Regions from separate parts of the Homo sapiens genome. Here region 2 is linked to region 1. Evidence: fine-mapped expression QTL. Tissue or cell type: gastroesophageal junction. Region 1 holds a variant in brackets; the other region holds the start of a gene. All regions are shown on one strand. Distances are from middle to middle.

What was found.
Region 2: AKTIP starts here. The variant in region 1 is fine-mapped to the expression of AKTIP in gastroesophageal junction (GTEx, PIP 0.97).

The regions. Positions count from the first base shown.
Region 1 is chr16:53,469,880-53,482,344 of GRCh38, forward strand. RBL2 (RB transcriptional corepressor like 2) reads left to right here. Exons shown (of 22, transcript NM_005611.4): 15 at 37-306; 16 at 504-784; 17 at 867-1,043; 18 at 9,275-9,346; 19 at 10,007-10,112; 20 at 10,688-10,890; 21 at 11,792-11,956. Among named protein-coding and RNA genes, the nearest start is that of AKTIP, 27 kb to the right of the region's middle. The variant A/G (reference allele first, on the strand shown) is at 6,713.
Region 2 is chr16:53,499,677-53,508,070 of GRCh38, forward strand. It overlaps AKTIP (AKT interacting protein), which reads right to left and starts at 3,533. Exons shown (of 10, transcript NM_022476.4): 1 at 3,471-3,533; 2 at 542-653. The coding sequence starts at 583. It overlaps LOC124903690 (a long non-coding RNA gene), which reads left to right and starts at 4,704. Exons shown (of 2, transcript XR_007065069.1): 1 at 4,704-4,744; 2 at 5,065-6,302. RefSeq lists enhancers at 2,729-3,230, 3,231-3,730, 4,191-4,290 and silencers at 3,001-3,300, 3,561-3,630, 3,651-3,890, 4,611-4,700.

The DNA of each region.
Region 1 (12,465 bases):
GAGTTAAATGCTTTGTTTGATTTGTTTTGACCCTAGGCATAACATCTCCAACCACATTATACGATAGGTACAGCTCCCCACCAGCCAGCACTACCAGAAGGCGGCTATTTGTTGAGAATGATAGCCCCTCTGATGGAGGGACGCCTGGGCGCATGCCCCCACAGCCCCTAGTCAATGCTGTCCCTGTGCAGAATGTATCTGGGGAGACTGTTTCTGTCACACCAGTTCCTGGACAGACTTTGGTCACCATGGCAACCGCCACTGTCACAGCCAACAATGGGCAAACGGTAACCATTCCTGTGCAAGGTAAGGAAGGCAGAGTTGGATATTGAGTTCCTTCTCTGTGGCATGTATTGAAAAGTTACCCGAGGTTTGGCTAGAGTGACATAGGGGACAGAGGAGTGATGGGGAGAGAGGGTTTGGGAGAGCAGAAATTGTAAACCTCTGCCCGGAGAACCTCTTATTATCAACATTTTCTTCATGCTTTTTTTCTCTGTCACTAGGTATTGCCAATGAAAATGGAGGGATAACATTCTTCCCTGTCCAAGTCAATGTTGGGGGGCAGGCACAAGCTGTGACAGGCTCCATCCAGCCCCTCAGTGCTCAGGCCCTGGCTGGAAGTCTGAGCTCTCAACAGGTGACAGGAACAACTTTGCAAGTCCCTGGTCAAGTGGCCATTCAACAGATTTCCCCAGGTGGCCAACAGCAGAAGCAAGGCCAGTCTGTAACCAGCAGTAGTAATAGACCCAGGAAGACCAGCTCTTTATCGCTTTTCTTTAGAAAGGTAATTTTTCACATACCTTATCAGAGCATGAGCTTGGGAAATACAAGTGTTAAACAAAGTTTGAAATGTTTTTATCTCCTAGGTATACCATTTAGCAGCTGTCCGCCTTCGGGATCTCTGTGCCAAACTAGATATTTCAGATGAATTGAGGAAAAAAATCTGGACCTGCTTTGAATTCTCCATAATTCAGTGTCCTGAACTTATGATGGACAGACATCTGGACCAGTTATTAATGTGTGCCATTTATGTGATGGCAAAGGTGAGTACCATTTGGAATTGTAAAGGCAAAGATAGGTCTTCATTACTGAGAACATTTTTTAACCACTGTCTTGAGATACAGTTTACATGCTCTATAATTCACCTATTTAAAATGCACAACTAAATGGGTCTTAGTATATTCACAGATATGTGCAATACTCACCACAATTTTAGAACATAATATTCCATTGTATAGTTATATGAGAGTATTTTTATCCATTTATTAGCTAATGTATATTTTAGTTGTTTCTACTTTTGGCATATATGCATAATACCACTATTAGCATTTGTGTTTGGGTTTTTGTATAGACATGTATTTTCATTTCTCTAGGGTATATACCTAGGAATGGGCTGCTGGGTCATACATTAACTGTGTTTTAACTATTTAGGGAATTGCTAGATTGTTTTCCAAAGTACTGTACCATTTTACACTTACACAGCAGTATAATAAAGATTTTAGTTTCTCCACTATCTCATTAACACTTACTATCTTACTTTGTTTAAATAACTTATTGAGGAGAAATTCACATAACATAAAATTAATTGGGTTTTTCTTTTTTTTTTTGAGATGTTGTTTCATTCTTGTCACCCAGGCTGGAGTGCAGTGGTGCATCTCAGCTCACTGCAACCTCTGCCTCCCAGGTTCAAGCGATTCTCCTGTCGTAGCCTCCCGAGTAGCTGGGATTACAGCCATGTGCCACCATGCCTGGCTAATTTTTGCATTTTTAGTAGAGATGGGGTTTGACCATGTTGGCCAGGCAGGTCTCAAACTCCTGACCTCAGGTGATCTGCCCACCTCGGCCTCCCAAAGTGCTGGGATTACAGGCATGAGCCACTGGGCCCAGCCAAATTAACTATTTTAAGTTGAACAATTTAGGAGCATTTAGCACATTTACAGTACTAAGTGTAATAAATGGTTGTATACTCACCACCTCTGTCTAGTTCCAGAACATTTCCGTACCTGCAAAGTAAAACTCCTTTCCTATTAAGTAGTTTCTCCCCATTCTACCTCCCACAGCACCTGGCAACCAGCAGTTGGCATTCTGGCTGTATGGATTTATCTGTTCTTAATCGTTTATAGAAATGGTACAATATGTGACCTCTTGTGTATGGCTCCTTTTACTTAGGATAATATTTTCCAGGTTTACCCATGTTGCAGCATGTATCAGTACTTCATTCCTTTTTATGACTGAATGATATTCCATTGTATGGATAGGCACAATTTTTTTCTCCACTCATACACTGATGGATATTTGGGCTGTTTCCAACTGTTGGCTATAGTGAATAGCACTGTTGTGAACAGGTATATCATGTACCTGTTTGAGTGCCCATTTTCAGTCCTTTTGAGTTTATTCCTAGGAGTGGAACTGCAGGGTCATATGGTGATACTATGTTTAACTTTTTTGAAGAACCACCGTACCATTTTCCACAGAAGCTGCACCATTTGACATTGCTACCAGTAATGCACAAGAGTTCCAGTTTCTCCACATCCTTGCCAACTTATTATTTTTATTATAGCCATCTTAGCGGGTATTGGGTGATATATCATTGTGGTTTTGATTTTCATTTGCCTGATAACTAAGGATGTCAAGCATCTTTTCATGTGCTTACTGGCCATTTGCATATCTTATTTGGAGAAATATCTTTAAATCCTTTGCCCATTTTAAAATTATGTTATTATTGAGTTGTTGGAATTCTTTATTTTGGATACAACTACCTTCTCAGATGTATGATTTGCAAATATTTTCTCCCATTCGGTGTATCTTTTCACTTACTCGATAGTGTCATTTGAAGCATAAAAGTTTTTAATTTTGATGAAGTCCAGTTACCTGTTTTTTGGTTTGTTACTTGCACTTTGGGTGTCCTAAGAATCCATTACCAAACCCAAGGTCTTTTGATTTTTATAGTTTTATCTCATAGTTAGGTCTTTGATCAATTTTGAGTAATTTTTGTGTATGGTATGAGGTAGCAGTCCATTTCCATTCTGATTATGTGGTTGTGCAGTTGTCTCAGCACCATTGTTGAAAAGAAGATTTTTTTCCTCACTGAATGGCCTTGGTACCCTCCTTTAAAATCAATTGACCGTTGACAACATTTGGGTTTATTTCTGAACTCTAAATTCTATTCCACTGGACTATATGCCTATCCTTATGCAATACCATATTCTCTAGATTAGAGAGTTGCTTTCTTATAAGTTTTGAAATTGGGAAATATGAGTGCTCCTACTTTTTTTTTCTTTTCAAGATTATTTTCGAAGTCCCTTGAAAAATGAATTTTAGAATCAAATTATCAGTTTCACAAAGGAATAAGCTAGGATTCTGATAGGGTTGCACTGAATCTGTAGATCCATTTGGGGAGTATTGCCATCTTAACAATTTTATATCTTCTGATCCATGAACATAGGATGTTTTTCCATTTATTTAGATCTTCTGTTTTTTTTTCAACAATGCTTTGTACTTTTCAGAGTATGTTTGCAATTCTTTTGTTAAATTTATTCCTATTCTTGTTGATGCTATTCCAAGTGTAGTTGTTTCATTGTTAACGTGTTCATTGCAAGTGTATAGAAAAACACTTTTGTATATTGATCTAGTATCCAGCAACTTTGCAGAAGTTATTAGTTCTAATAGTTTTCTAGTAGATTCCTTAGGATTACTATGTAGGAAATCATGTAATCTGCTTATAATTTTACTTCTTGTCCAAACTGGATGCCTTTTATTTCTTTTTCTTTCCTAATTATCTTGCTAGAACTTCCAGTATAGTTGAACAGAACTGTCGAAAGCAGAAATCCTTGTCTTGATCTTAGGTGGAAAGCATCTAGTTTTTCACTATTAAAGTATGATAGTAGTTATGGTTTTTTTCATAGATGCCCTTTATCAGGTTGAGGAAGTTCCCTTCTTTTCTTAGTTCATTGAGTGTTTTTTTTATCATGAAAGGGCATTAGATTTTGTCAAATGCTTGTGTGTCCATTGAGATGATCGTGTGCTTATTTTTTTTATTCTATTAATATAGTATATTACACTGATTAATCTTCCTATGTTAAACCAGCCTTGCATTTCTGGTGTAAATCCCTCTCAGTCATGGTGTGTAAGTCTTATTTTTTTCTTTTTTTGAGACAGTGTCTCGCTCTGTTACCCAGGCTAGAGTGCAGTGGTGAGATCATAGCTCACTACAAGCAGTCCTCCCACCTTCATCTCCTGAGTAGCTGGGACTACAGGTACATGCTGCCATGCCTGGCTAATTTTTTAAATTTTTTGTAGACAGGGTCTACCTTGTTGCACAGGCTGGTCTCGAACTCCTAAGCTCAAGCAGTCCTCATGCCTCAGCCTCCCAATGTGTTGGGATTATAGGCGTGAGCCACTGCACCCGGCTGCTGTAATTCTTTTATTTATTTATTTATTTATTTATTTATTTTGAGATGGAATTTCGCTCTTGTTGCCCAGGCTGGAGTGCAGTGGCGAGATCTTGGCTCACCGCAACCTCCGCCTCCCAGGTTCAAGCAATTCTCCTGCCTCAGCCTCCCAAGTAGCTGGGATTACAGGCATGTGCCACCACCCCTGGCTAATTTTGTATTTTCAGTAGGGACGGGGTTTCTCCATATTGGTCAGGCTGGTCTCAAACTCCCAACCTCAGGTGATCCACCTGCCTCGGCCTCCCAAAGTGCTGGGATTATAGGCGTGAGCCACGGTGCCCAGCCTATAATTCTTTTTATATGTTGCTAGGTTTGGTTTGCCAACAGTTTGTTGAGGAATTTGTTTTCAGTTAAAAAAAATATTTATTTTTTCAAGTTTCCACATGCAGCAGTGATTGCTAAGGAATTTTATCCTTATGCATAAGAGGCATTGGTCTGTAGTTTTCTTGTTGTGGCTTTGTCTGGTTTTATTATCAGGGTAATAATGGTCTCATAGAATTGAGTAGGAAGTGTTCTCTTCTATATTTAGGTATTATATTTTTTCCTTTGCCTTTTTTTTTAATTTACAGCTGCCTGAAAGACCCATGGATATGAGCTTCTTGGTATTAATGTTTTAAAGTTTGGTAGAATTCAGCAGCGAAGCTGTTGAGACCAGAGATTTTCCTTGTGGGAAGTTTATTGGTGAATAATTCCGTCTCTTATTTGTTATAGGTCTATTCAGATCATCTGTTTCTTCTAGAATCAGTTGTGGTAGTGTATGTCTTTCTAAGAATTTGTCTGTTTCCTCTGGGCTAAATTGTTGGCAAATAATTATAATATTTCCTTCTGTTCTTTTTTATTCTTTAAGGTCAGTAGTAATGTCCTTTTCCTTTTATGATTGTAGTTTTCGTTTTGTTTTGTTTTTTGAGACAGTCTCACTCTGTTGTCCAGGCTGGAATACAGGGGCATGATCTTGGCTTACTGAAACCTTAGCCTCCTGGTTTCCAGTGATTCTTGTGCCTCAGCCTCCTGAGTAGTTGGGACTACAGGCCTGTGCCACCTCGCCCAGCTAGTTTTTGTATTTTTAGTAGAGATGGAATTTCCCCATGTTGCCCAGGCTGGTCTCAAACTCTTGGCCTCAAGCGATCCATCCACCTTGGCCTCCCAAAGTGCTGGGATTGCAGGCATGAGCCCCTGTGCCCTGCTTTTTGTAGTAGTTTGAGACTCCTCCCTTTTGTTCTTGGTCTAGCTAAAGGTTTGTCAATTTTCTTGATCTTTTTCTTTTAAAAACCAGCTTTTTGGTTTCATTTATCTATTTTTGTGTTCTTTATTCATTAGTATATAATCTTATTTCCTTCTTTCTGCTTACTTGAGGCTTACTTTTTGCCCTTTTCTGTTGTTTTAAGATGGTTTAAGATGGATGTTTAGGTAATTAATTTACTATTTCTCTTAATATCTTTTTTCCCCAAATCCTTTACGTAGATATCAGTATCTTTTAAAAGATACCTTTCTAATATTTCAATATCTTTTTTTTTTTTTTTTTTTTTTTTTTTTGAGACAGCATCTTGCTCTGTCGCCTAGGCTGGAGTGTAGTGCTCACGGCAGCCTTCCTCCAGGGCTTAAGTGATCCTCTTCCCTAAGCTTCCTGAGTAGCTGGGACCACAGCCGTGCACCACCATGCCCTGCTAATTTTTTGTAGATACGAGATTTTGCTGTGTTACCCAGGCTGGTCTCGAACTCCTGAGCTCAAGCAATCCTCCCTCCTCAGCCTCCCAAAGTGCTGGGATTACAGGTGTGAGCCACCGCCCTTGGCCCTTCTTCATTTTCAGTGTAAGCATTAACAACTCTAAATTTTCCTCCGTGCACTGCTTTAGCTGCATGAGTGTTGGTATGGTGTGTCTTCATTTCAAAAGTATTTTCTGATTTCTTTTTTTGGCTTCTGTTTGACTCACTGGTTATGTAGCAATATGTTGTTAACTTCGTATTTGTAAGTTTCCCAAATTTGTTACTGATTTCTACTTTCATTGTGATTGAAAACACACTTCATTTTATTCCAGTTCTTTTAAATATATTAAGAATTGTTTTATAGCCTAGCATATATGCTCTATCCTAATGAATTTCAAAGTACATTTGAGAACAGTGTGTATTCTGTGGAGGTTGGGGAGAGTGTTCTGTAGATGTCTGTTAGGTCTAATTGTTTTATATTGTTAGTAAAGTGTTTTGTTTCCTTGTTGATCTGCCTAGATCATCTCTCCATTCTTGAAAGTGAGGTACTGAAATCT[A/G]TAAATATTATTGCTGAATTGTCTACTTTTCCCTTCACTTCTGTCACTTTTCGCTTCAGGTATTTTTTGTGCTCAGTTATTAGGTATGTGTATAACTGTTATAGATTCCTGATGGCTTGATCCTTTTATCATTATGGAATGTCCCTTTTTAATAACTTTTTTTGTCCTGAAGTCTGATTTATAGTGTGAGATATATAGTCACCCAGCTTTCTTATGGTTGCTGTCTGTATACCTCTTTCCATCCTTTCATTTTCGAATGTATTTGTATTTTTTAAATCTAAAATGTCTCCTGTAGATAAAATACATTTGGATTTCTTTTGCCTTTTGACTATGTATATAATTGGATTTACATCTGCCATTTTACTTTTTGTTTTCATGTCTTTCCCTTTGCCTTTGCAGCTTTGCTTTTGCATTAGGTCAATATTTTCTAAAGTAGCATTTTAACGTCAGTACTTTGGTTTCATTTTGTGTGTGTGTGTGTGTGTGTGTGTAGTGGTTGCCCTAGGGCTTACCATATATCTCTTATCAAAAATCAGCTTCAGATTATACTGACTTAATTCCAGTGAGATATAGGAGTGTTAACTGTTTCGTTACACATATTACATCCATAAATGTACAACTCCACCAGTACATTGTTATAATTATTGATACAATTTTATGACTTCTAAAGTAGCAGAAAGGAAAGGAGTGTAAGTATGTATTTAAAACTTTTGCTCTAGTAACCTTATTAATAATTTCTGGTTTCCTTTCTTTCTTTCTTTTTTAAGACTGAGTCTTGCTCTGTCGCCCAGACTAGAGAGCAGCGGTGCAATCTCAACTCACTGTAACCTCTGCCTCCCGGGCTCAAATGATCCTTCTGCCTCAGCCTCCCATGTAGCTGGGCCTACAGGGTGCAGGCATGTGCCACCATGCCCGGCTGATTTTTGTATTTTTTTGTAGAGACGGGGTTTTGCCATGTTGCCCAGGCTGGTGTCGAACTCCTGGCCTCAAGCAGTTCACTTGCCTCAGCCTCACAAAATGTTGGGATTACAGGAGTAGCCACTACACCCAGCCTATTTCTATTTCTCTTATTCATTCCTGTGTATGTGAGTTGCCATCTGGAGTAATTTCCTTTGCTCAATATGGCTTTGCTCCTGCCTACCTCCTTTGTACTGTTGTAGGCAAATATGTTACATTTTTGTATGTTATGGGTACATTATATATATATATTATTTATACAATTGATTTTTTAATCAGTTAAGAAAGGAGAAGAAATGTGCAGTTATACTGTATTTACGATTACATAATTATCTTTACCAGTGCTCTTGGCTTTCTTCATGTGTAGTGTTGTCCAGGGGCATTTGCTTTTGGCTTCTAGAATTTTGTGTAGTATTTCTTGTAAGGGGTTTGCTAGCACCAAATTCTGTTTTTGTTTATCTGAGAGTATATTTATTTTACCTTCATTTCTGAAAGATAACTTGCAAAAATTTTGAATATTGACATTTCAGAGATAAAAATCTTGAGTAACTTTTTAATACTGGATTCTTAGTTTAATATTTTTTCTTTCATCACTTTGAATGTTATCCCACTGCCTCCTGGCCTCTGTAGTTTCTGATTAGAAGTCAAATTTTATTTTATTGGGGTTTCCCTGTAACTGAAAAGTTGTTTTTCTCTTGATGCTTTTAATATTTTCTTTCTTTGGCTTTGAACATTTTTACTGTGATATATCTGGGTACGGATGAGTTTATCCTACCTGGAAGTCACTGAATGTCCTGGATATGTAATTTAATAAATTTGGGAAGTTTTCAGTATTTCTTTGAACATTTTTTTCTGCTTCTTTCTCTCCTCTCCTGATTCTCCCATTACACGTATGTTGATTTCCTTAATGGTGTGCCACATTTCTCTGAGGCTGTTTTTCTTCATTCTTTCTCTGTTCCTCAGATCACACAATCTCTTTCTTCATGTTTGCTAATCCTTTTTTTTTTTTTTTTGCTAGTTCAAATCTGTTTTCCCTAGCTTCTAGTGAATTTTTCATTTCATTTACTGTACTTTTCTACTCCAAGTCTTTTTTTGAGAGAGAGTCTTGCTCTGTCACCCAGGCTGTACAGTGGCTCAATCTCAGCTCACTGCAACCTCCATCTCCCAGGTTCAAGTGATTCTCCTGCCTCAGCCTCCCCAGTAGCTGGGATTACAGGCATGTGCCACCATGCCCGGCTAATTTTTGTATTTTTAGTAGATACTGGGTTTCACCATGATGGCCAGGCTGGTCTTGAACTCGTGACTTCAAGTGATCCACCCTCCTCAGCCTCCCAAAGTGCTGGGATTACAGGTGTGAACCACCGCACCTGGCCTCTAAGTCTTGATTCACATACTATAGACTCCTATTGTTTTTATTGAATTTTAATAGATATTCTTGAATCGATGTATCTTCATTTGCTATATGCCGTTAATACCATTTCCAGAGACTTTAAATAGCTTTTATATAATTTTCACCCCTTTTACTGGGCAGCAGGTTCACAGAGCTCCTCACACTATTATGGTGGTAGTTGCCATGTCTCTCAGAGCACTCTTATTGTTTGCCAGGTCACAAAAGAAGATAAGTCCTTCCAGAACATTATGCGTTGTTATAGGACTCAGCCGCAGGCCCGGAGCCAGGTAACTACATTTTCTCTATGGGCTGAAAAATAAAGCTTAAAGTCTGTGATGAATACAAAAAATTAACCATAGTTGACTCTGTGGCCTTTTTTCCAAGATAAACACCTGGGACTCTACTTAAGGGAAGTTTCTACTTTAATCTTTATTCTTGATGTCACATGTTGATTAAGGTCTCTTTTCCTCAAAAGGCAACAATGTTAAATATTTGATTGCCTTCTTAATTCAGAAAAATCACAAGATAGGAATTAAGAAGTTACTTGGTTTCTATGTCACCTTTCATTCTGGTTTAGTAAACATACTGTAGGTTTAACCAACAGAATGTCACATGGAAATTTAAAACCCACTTTGCCTTTATTACCATTCATCTCTGAGAGGCAAATCGGCCAGATCTGTGTATCTTACTTAGAATGACTTGACATTATGGTTGGGTGCTGTCACTGCAGTGTAGTACTGCAGGTAGTACTTGGCATGTGATGCTAGATGGGCTCTGATTGAATCCTGGATCTGTTATAATTTGAGTTATGTTTCTCAACCTGTTCTGAGGACAACTATTGCTATACAGGTTATTGTGAAAACCAAGTAACATATGTGAAGGTCCTATCACCAAGGGTGTGCTCAACAAATACTAGTTTATGTCCCCTTCTCATTGTTTCTCTAAAGGTGTATAGAAGTGTTTTGATAAAAGGGAAAAGAAAAAGAAGAAATTCTGGCAGCAGTGATAGCAGAAGCCATCAGAATTCTCCAACAGAACTAAACAAAGATAGAAGTAAGTGGGATCTTTGTGAACTACAAGACAAAATTAGGAGCTTTTCTTACTTTTTAGGCCTTGAAGAAGTAACTAAGCATTACTAAATGAAATAACTATAGAAACTATGAAAGTGTTTTATAGATCAGTAAACCATATTCTAGCTGGCAAAACTGTCCATTACATAGCTTTGGGGCACATATTATGTAACATTTTTCTCCAGGAGAATTAGAGCTTTCAGGGAGGAATCTGCTTGCCTGAGTTCCAGAAAGGTCTGATATGTCAATTGGAACCATGCTATGGAAATACCATCCCCTGCCTGTTGCTTTGTACCACTTAGTACAGGGCTTAGGTCCTAGAAAATTTGGTGTAACTTATTAATGGACACTACTCAGAAAGCCCTTGCTATGGTTATGGCATAGGGAGAAAGTTAATATCCTAGCTGAGCTTTGCTTTTTGGTGTGAAGAACAGAGTGCCTATTCACTGTTATTAGCAAGTAGTGCAGGTAGCTGTTCCCTTTCTCCTACTTTTAAAAAATTAAAACAGTCAATATTAGCAGCCTTTGTACTGACAGCCTTTGTTCTCCTGGCTGCAGCCAGTAGAGACTCCAGTCCAGTTATGAGGTCAAGCAGCACCTTGCCAGTTCCACAGCCCAGCAGTGCTCCTCCCACACCTACTCGCCTCACAGGTGCCAACAGTGACATGGAAGAAGAGGAGAGGGGAGACCTCATTCAGTTCTACAACAACATCTACATCAAACAGATTAAGACATTTGCCATGAAGTACTCACAGGCAAATGTAAGTATGACAGGGATTATTTCATACTTTTTTCACTCATGAGTGTTGAGGAATCATTTATGATTTATATATGGACCATTCACCTGGTCCGTATATAAACTAGTTTTGGCCAGGTGTGGTGGCTCACACCTGTAATCCCAGCACTTTGGGAGGCCGAGGAGGGCAGATCACTTGAGGTCAGGAGTTCAAGACCAGCCTGGCCAACGTGGTAAAACCCAGTCTCTACTAAAAATACAAAAATGAGCTGGGCGTGGTGGCACACACTTGTAATCCCAGCTACTCTGGGGGCTGAGGCAGGAGAATTGTTTGAACATGGGAGGCGGTGGTTGCAGTGACCTGAGATTGTGCCACTGCACTCCAGCTTGGGTGACAGAACAAGACTCTGTCTCATAAATAAGCTAGTTTTACAAATAATTCTATTAAGTAAAACTGAGGAGGTCTGTAATTTACCTAACCAATATAAATTCTACTGTTGTTAAGCATTAAACGAGTAAGATTGTATTTGGAGTCCCTACAAAGTATAGTAGTACAAGAGACAGGCTACATGGGTTCAAATTTTCCAGTACTTAACAGTGGTGGTAACCTTGCAAATCATTAAATTTTCTCTGTACCTCATTTCCTCATATATAAAATGGGAATATAACTAGTTCCTAGCATATGGGGTTGTTGTAAGGATGAAATGACATAATGTATAAAAATTGCTTAAAATAATAACTGGCACAAACTAAGCACTTAAGGTTTGCTATTAGAATATTTTTCTTTAGGTTAAGTTATTGCTAATACATCACTCTGTCATTCATAAAACTACTGGTTTAGCACACCTCTTCACTCAATAATCATTTTCAGTAAAAATAATTATAAATTTTTTTCTTAGAATTACTGATTTTTTTTTTTTAAACAGATGGATGCTCCTCCACTCTCTCCCTATCCATTTGTAAGAACAGGCTCCCCTCGCCGAATACAGTTGTCTCAAAATCATCCTGTCTACATTTCCCCACATAAAAATGAAACAATGCTTTCTCCTCGAGAAAAGATTTTCTATTACTTCAGCAACAGTCCTTCAAAGGTGAGCCTAACATCAATCTTGGCCTTTACTAACCTCAAAATGCTTCAGATGCTAGAAACAGGGTTTGTGCTAAGCTTAGGCACTCATTAGAGTGATGAGAGCTGCCAGGGAGCAGTGATCAGTCAGTCCTCATGAAGCAAAACCCAGGGTTTGTTTTGTTTTTTGCCTTTTTTGAGGGGGAGGGGGTGGAATTTTAGGGTGGGAAACAGGGTAAGGGATTTGGATTTCTTTTTATTCCCTCTCCTATTTGTACATTTTGCTGTAAACCTGAAATTTGTGTTTATCCCATTTGTAACAATTTTCCACATTTGTTAGGGAAAGAAATTTTGGATTCCTTACCAAAGGCCTGTTTCTGGGACAGGCAGTGTCCTCAGGACTCTGGCTAATGGGAGAAGTTGACATTTTTGACATTGCAGTGCAATAGTCATATTAGCACAGATGTATGTGGCAACAGCCACCTCATTCTAAGAAGGGGAAGGAAGCTTGAGTCAGGCCTTAATGTTGAAAAG
Region 2 (8,394 bases), 28 kb after region 1:
GTCTCGATCTCCTGACCTCGTGATCTGCCCGCCTCGGCCTCTCAAAGTGCTGGGGATTACAAGCATGAGCCACCGTGCCCAGCTGGTTTTTATTTTCTTATTGTTTGCCTATTTTAACCTTTCCTAAAATGAAAATATATTTTTAAAAAATCATTTTATTTAGAAAAATTAAATTAGTGCCCCTCAAGTCTGATTTAATGATATTAGACTAGCCTTTCCCACAGCTGTTCTAACCGTAGAACCTTGAAGTTTAGTAGAAAACTACAATGTTACAAATTTCATCATGTGTAAATATAACCTAAATCATCTTAGAATTGTGATGACCAGAACGATTTCTATTTGAGATGCAATCCTAGTCTCAGAAACAGACTTCAACCAACAAAATAATTATTTCTCAAGAGTAAACCCTTAACTAGAAAAACCAGGTAATTTTGTCAAGATTACAGGTGACCGTGACAGATTATTTTAGCCTTCATTCTGACCCTATTTTCAGACACAGAAGCAAATGGGTTTTCTTACTGAATTTATCAACTATACCTACTTTGCGTACAGAGCTTGTAGACATGCTCCAGAAAGGGTTCATAACGTGTATTCCAAACAAAGAAAGTCAGTGGTGTATCATCCAAATCTTCTGTCTTCGGCATTCACTTTACCTTAAAACAAGACGGGAAGACATAGAAACATGCCAACACCAACCATTAAGACTTTTTTTTTTTTTTAAGATGGAGTCTCACTCTGTTGCCCAGGCTGGAGTGCAGTGGTGTGATCTCGGCTCACTGCAACCTCCACCTCCTGGGTTCAAGCGATTCTCCTGCCTCAGCCTCCTGAGTAGCTGGGATTACAGGTGCCTGCCACCATGCCCAGCTAAGTTTTGTATCTTTAGTAGAGACAGGGTTTCACCATGTTGGCCAGGCTGGTCTCGAACTCCTGACCTCAAGTGATCCACCTGCCTCAGCCTCCCAAAGTGCTGGGATTACGGGCATGAGCCACCACGCCCGGCCAACAGTTAAGACTTCTGAAATGATGAATAACTAATTATGACACCCTGGATATACAATATAATGTTATATAACAAGGGGTTATAAAAACCTAGGAAAAGGTCTTCAGGCATCTTCAGAAATAGTTTCCTTCTATACCCACCTCCTTTTCTGGTTCTAATTTCTTTCACACTTAGATGTCTATAAGAATCTGTGCACCAGGTCCCTTGGCCAGGATTCAGATTACTCAGTGACACAGATGAGCTTTGGTGCCAGAAATTCAGAAGATACGGACAACAGTTGTTACTAGCACATCTCGGCATTTAACTAACAGGAAAGCCAGACTCAGAATGCACTGTACCCACATACACATAAGTTGTATCACTGTTCCCAGGGTTATGGGAACAAACAATAGATACAAGGAGGCTGATTTAAGCGCTGCCTCAACTCACCTGAGTACAAAATGATTCCTCCAGCAAAGTATTAGCCAAAGAAATAAGAGAAAACAGGAAGGCACAGCACAAGTATGTCACTAAGACGACAAAAGTAGTTACCTGAGTCCTGTCAGTACCATCCCCCAATAAACTGCCTTCTACAACTTCGAAACATATAGAAACTGCAGGATCATGTACTTAAGGAACTGCCAAGCAATCCAGACAAATGCAACACAGGCACGCAAGAGAGACATTTCACAAGTACAGATCTTCCAGCCGAAGCTTCAAGTCGTGGATAAGAAAGCATGTCTCAAAGGTCATAAAGTCAGTGGGTCATTTACTAAAAATACAAAGAAGCAAAGGAAAAGCAGCCAAGCCCAGCTGTAAGAACAGCAACTTCCCTGCCCTGGTATTTCCCCCCAGGCTCTGTTACCTTTAAAGCAGAGCTCCTTCTCTGAATTCCTACTTGCACCAATCAAACGGCTGAAGGTGAAAAGGGTCAAAACTAAGCAACGTTTTCCTAATTTCTTAAACAGATCATGAGCAAACCATGTACTAAATGTCCCCAATCAGCAATAATTTGTCTTCTCTGACGAGCTTGTGACATCCAGGGACGTACCCAACCCAGGTCATCCATACCTTGCCAGTGCCCATTACTGCTGTTTTGTTTTCCAAGAGAAAATGCCACCCAGTAATTAAATCAGAGGAATGAAGATCCTGGCTCTTCTACTAGCATGGATAACATGCAATAAGTAACAACAGTTCTCCGCAAATCTGCCTTTAAAGGTGAGTATGACACACTGAATATACTTGAGATATCAAAAATGTGCGGGGGCATGTTCCCCTTTGGCTCAAATGAAGACACTGATTTTCAGATCTAGCAGTAATGTGCAGCACCCCAGTGTCCTCTAGGACACACCTAACACGGGACCGGATCCCTTGGGACACAGTGGTGTGCTCCACAACATACATTTAATGGGCTGGTGCAAACCTGTAAAGTCTCTTAAAGGTCTAACGCGTTAGGATTCTCTTTAAGAATCCAGTAAATTTTGTCCCCAGTTCTGCCTGTCATTAAGCAGGAGGTATTGTCTTCTGCTGCCTAACTTTGCTATGGATCTTTTAATCCAATGTTTCCAGCAGCAACATAATCACGAGAAACTGTAGCACACTTTTCAGGGTCTAGTCTAGGACAAGCACAGCATACATGTTCTGAGAGGAATGACATAGATGGAAGCAAGACATGTTACATCCTTGTCACTTGGAAACAATTTTAGAATTTCTGCCTGTTTGGCCACGGCTGCATTCCTTTACATCACCCAGCTGAGAAGTCTGGGTCTTCAGCCTGCGCGAATGACAGTGCGTGGCAGAGCTAAAACTAGGCTAAAACATGAGTGCTGCTGTTACTCTACATGCCACAGCGCACTCACATCACCCCGAATCGGACTTAAGAAATTACACGTTAAGAGGAGACAGAGCAGGGGCCAGAAAAAAAAAGATGAAAACGGCCCGGGCCAGGCTCGCTGGGGACAGCCGGGACCCGCGGCGGCCTCGGACCGGCACCCTCACCGCGGGCGGAAACCCGTCTCTGAGCACTCAGGGAATCTGGACAAACCTGTCTCGAGGTGATGCAAGGCGGGGGCCCTGTCCTGGCCTCGCAGCTAGCTCGATGCTGGCCCGGGAGCCGCGGGCCCCTCCAGTGGGGGGGCTCTGGGGCCCGGCGACGCCCCCTTAACCAGAGCTCGGGGTCGGGACCCGGCCGGGGAGGGCGGGCACGGGCCGGGGCGAGCCAGCTGGGCCCCCCTCTCCCTCGGGCCGGGCCAGCCCAGCTCCAGCCGCAGTCCCCAGCAGCAGTCCCGGGCTGCGAGGCGGCCAGCGCAGCAGGTGCCTGCAAACGCGCACAGGTGCCCGGCCCCGCCTCCGTGTCCCACTGCGGCCGCCGTCGCCGAGTCGCGAGCGCCTAGAAAGATGGACAAATGCCGGGCCCGTGGAGGCTGGCGGCCAGATTTACAGACACCTCAGCCCTCGCGTACCCACCAGCCTGCCGGGCAGTAAGCCTCACCCCAGTGCCTTCAATGCAGAGCTCCTGGCTGCCAAGCGCCGCCGCGGCCCGACAGCATCTCCCGCCGCAGCGCCAGCCCTGCCCCTGCTTGATCCCCGCCCCGCCCCACCCCGCCCTGCCCTGCCCTGCCCTGCCCTCGGCAGCGGGCTCCGCCCCCTGCTGCACGATCCTGGGGCCCGAGGCTTCCGCCTGGCCTCCCGGCGCCAACTGGCTCTCACACCTGCCCGTCAAAGACGTTCTTCCGGGGGCGTTGGGAAGAACACACTCGGTCCTGCAAATCAAATCACCCCGGTTTGGGTGGGACTGCACTTGACCCTCCCCTTACGTAACAGCGCCTGGGACGGCCTGTCAGTCATGGAAGTATCGGCCCCCCGGGGAGGGATGGGGCAGAGACAAACAAGCGCCGGGTCACAATTGGCCAGGGCGTCTGCCAGTCACCACGGAGACCTTCCCGGAGGTTTATTCGCACAGCCCACAGCGCAACCGCCATGCGCAGGGGCTGGGGCATACGCTAACGTCTGCAAGCCAAGCTTTTGGGGAGGGCCGGGCCGCGCGACTGCCCAGTGGCTCCCATCGCTAGGTCCTACTGCGTTGGGCGGCGCTGCGAGGCCCGAGGCCGCCACGTCGGGCCCACAGGGTACCAGGGGTCAGAAGGACACTTGGCGTGGCATCAAGAAACGCCCGTTCTCTCCATCAGTGCAGGAGCTGAAGGCTGGAGCTGAAGGGAGCTCAGCTCCAAGTGGGCCCTGGGCACTAGAGCAGCCAGAGGAGCTTTGTAAATCTGTGTGTGTCGGCCCCGACCTGCAGCATCCGAGTGGGGGCCGGGGGCTGGGGGGAGGGGGGAGGCTGAGGACCAGGAATCCACATCTGTCACAGTTCGCTGCTGATTCTGGCGCACACTGAAGTTGGAGAACCTCTCCCATAGCAACATAGTTCCTGGTCTTTTTTTTTTTTTTTTTTTTTAATTCACACGCTCTCATTTGGACCTCCCGTCTGCTTTCCCATGGAGGTCTCTCTCTGGCCTAATTCTGTGACTGCTGCCAGCTGCTTTCCAGGCCTGTTCTTACCAACGGTGCCTCCCCGTGGTTAGTCCGTCCAATCTCGGCACTCCACTTCCACACTTGCGCGACAGCCCTCTCCCCGCAAGCCCCTGCCCCTTTTCTAGACACCAGAGGCACTGACCTGTCTGTGACACCGCCTCAGTGTCTTACACTCAGAAGCCGCATTCTCTGGCCGGGTTGTTTGGTCCATTTTTGGTTGCCTCTGAGATTCTGGTAAGTGACTTATTAAAGGGCAGGAAGCCAAATTCTCCTGATGTTAATCCCAAGGGTTGGTTCTGAAACCCAGCTTCCTCCCCTAGCTGAAAACACTTCTGAGCCACTTCCTTTTGTCCCCTTAGGACACATTTAGGAATGTTATCATGCCTTTTAATACGAGTCTTAATACAGAAAGGCAGGCAAGCAGGAAATCCTTTTTTCAGGCCACAGGTGGTCTCCTTTGGCACCTCTGTGGCCCATTTCCTCCCAATCTTCTTTGAAGCTCATTATCCTCTGCAAAGCTTTTTTTCTGCTTTCCTCCTTTCCCCAACCTTCAGTTTTCACCGAGGACCCACATAGGTATTTCTCCAGCTCACATCTATCCACTGAGCTTCCAATGCATGTCATCAACTGCGTACTTGGCACCGGATGACTCAGACGCACACCAGCATCAGACTGCACATGGCAGGAAAGCCAACTCAAACCGGCTTACTTAGCAAGGGGATTTCTCTCCCATGGGAGGATTGTCTCCAGAGGTGGTGCCCTGGTCTTCAGGCTCTGCTTTCCTTGCAGTCCCTGGAATTGCACTTTCAGGCTGGTAGCAAGATGGCCGCGGCACACCCAGGATCTCACAAAATTAAAAGTATCCCTTTCTTCCAGTGGTCCCTTTTGAAATACATGACTACCTTTCCCAGAAGCTCCGCAGAAGAAATGCCTGCAGGTTTCAATGGCCAGAAGTAAGTCTCTGGCCACAACGAAACCCAGTCAACGGCAAGTGGAAGGAGTCCGCCATGATCGACTTGGGCTGAGATTTTCCCTAGATCTCTGCCTGGACTTTAGGCAGAGGAGAGCCATGATCAGATTTGTATTTTGAAAACATCACTTTGTGCGGAAAACAGATTGTAGGGGCACAAGGCTCACGGGGCAGTTGAGGAACCATGGCAGTAGTTCAGGCAACAGAGAATCGCATGAATTTGAAGGTAGAGATGGAGAATTGAATGAGTTCCAGAGATGTTTAAGACGGGATGATATAGTTTGGATATGGTTTGACCCTTCCAAACCTCATATTGAAATGTGACCCCCAATGTTGAAAGTGGGGCCTGGTGGGAGTATTTGGGTCATGGAGGCTGATCCCTCATGAAAGGCTTGGTGCTGTCCTGGCAGTAGTGAGTTCTTGGCAGTAGTGAGTGAGTTCTATTAGTTCCCGAGAGAATTGATTGTCAAAAAGAGCCTGTCACCTTCTCCTCCCCTGACCACTGCTCTCTCTCTTGCCAAATGATTCCTGCTGGCCTCTCCCTCTGCCATGAATGGAAGCTTCCTGAGGTCCTCACCAGAAGATGCTGGTGCCATGCTTCTTATACTTAGTTGCCTCTGTCTTTCATTTGACATATATTTATTGCATGCTTAATGACATCTAGGCTTTAAATGCTGGGGAGGCGTTGGAGAACAAAACAGACATTGTTCCTCCTCATGGAGCTACGGGAGATAGATGCTAATCAAGTCATCTCCCAAATCAATGGCTAATTGCCCCAAGGAAGTGGACAATGAGCTGAATAAACCTCTTTTTAAAAATAAATGACCCAGCCTCAGGTATTCCTTTATAGCAACACTGATGGATTCATACAGGTGGGGTGGACAGAGCTTGGCCATGGACTAGGTATGGGGGATGAAGAGGCAGATATGGCTGACACCTAGATTTTTAGCATGAGCTACAGGATGGATGGTGAGGCCATTCACTGAGGTGACAAACAGTGAACCACAAGCAGGTTTGGGACAGTGGGAAATGGGAAAATCTGGGTTGTGTTTTGGGTAGGTATGTTTGGGGTGTTTCTGTAAGCACTATTGCCTGTATACCTAATACCCACTTCTCCCTTTTTCATTGCTGACAGAACCTCCATTTTCTTGAGGAATTTAAGCCCTTCAGTGGTTCCCCATTGGGCAAAGACCAAACTCCTCACCATGGCTGTGTCCCAGCCCCAGGTGGCTGCAGACTCCAGCCACTCTGACATTCTTCCAGTTCCTTGGAAGGGAGTTGCTCCCCTACCTGCCCTGCCACAAAAGGGGCCTTCGCAGTGAACGTTCCCTTTGCCCAGTTCATTCTCTTCAATCCCCTACACAGATCTCAGCTCTAACACTACTTCCTTGGGGGCAATTTGCTGTTGATTTGGGAGATTATTAGTGTCTGTCTCCCACACTGTAAGCTCCTGAGGAGGAACCATTTTTTTGCTTTCTATTGTCTCCCCGGCACCCAAGAGCTAGATGTTGTAGGCATGCAATAAATATTTGCCAAATGAAGGACAGAAGAAACAAAAGTACATTTGAAACACCTACCTGCACGCCCACAGGTCTGCACCAAGAAAGCAACTCATTATGAAAATCAGGATGATTTATTCAAAGGGAAATGAGGAGGTGGCCTCAAGGTACCATTTCTTTAAGACTAAAACATAAAGTGCTGAGAAAAATCTCAATGGACCCAAAACCTTACCTATAAAACATTTTAAATCGCTTCATATTACATTTCCTATTCTCAATTTTTGAAGCATATTTGATATATTTGCACCAAAAGGTTCTTTTTGCATCCAGACTTAATAGATATGTGATCTCTGAGTATTCAGGACTTCTGCTCATGTTCTAATCAGCAAAATATTCCCTGAATCATACATCTTTTGGACTCCGGAAAAGTAACTGTACAAAGCTGTTTAGATCACTGACTTAACTATTAAAGGCCTTCACAGAAAGAAGGAAAGGATAAAATGTTGAAGGTTGTTAAAATACATATGTTTCATACACAGGCACACATATAAGCCGATGTTTTTAGCGCAATCCATTTGCCCCCAAGTCCTTTTCTGAAAAGTAGATTCCTGTATACATGTCACTGATTACATATACTGTTCAAAATATGGGAGGATGATCTAGCTATACATATTAATGTCTTTGAAAAAATATACTTAGCACATTAAAGCCATTATTTTATGGGTAATAATGTTTAGGATGAGACCAAAGTAGGCATTTAATGTTGTTGTTTTTTTTAAGTAAATGGATTTAAGGGAGATCAGATAGTTGTCCTATAGTTAACAATGATCCTCAGACAAGACAGAAATCACAAACTTTTAAGAATTATTGAAGGTTTAGAAATGCTGCTATAGACGGATGATGTGGCTTTCTTCCTTTCCATAGCCTCATCGAGCGATACGGTTCTTGCTTATAACATCACACATGTGCTTCCAGGTTTTGGTTGCATCATGTTTTCCTCCCTATCCCATTACCCATAACTCCTATCCCTGAGCAAGTGGGTGGGCGGGTGGAGGAATGAATTTTACAGACAGACTACAACATTTCAAAATGAAATCAGGGTAGCTGATGGACCACTGCGGATATTTATGTCTTAAGGAAAAGCAACCAATATATGATACGGCTGCTCATTCAGGGCTGAAGAGAACTGATTTCCTTTTATAATCAAACAGCATTTTGAACGTGGTCTGACACCGCAAATAATCCCCACTCCCTCAGCACGCTGATGACTGTACCCACAGCCATAAGAGCAGTGTTCTCTTTGATTCAGTTTATCTTTGGGAAACCACTTCACTCTGTGGTCTCAAAGCATTTGGAATGATGATAAAGGCTTGAGTTAGTTTTATCTAGAGTGGCACACTCAGAAAACCAAAGAG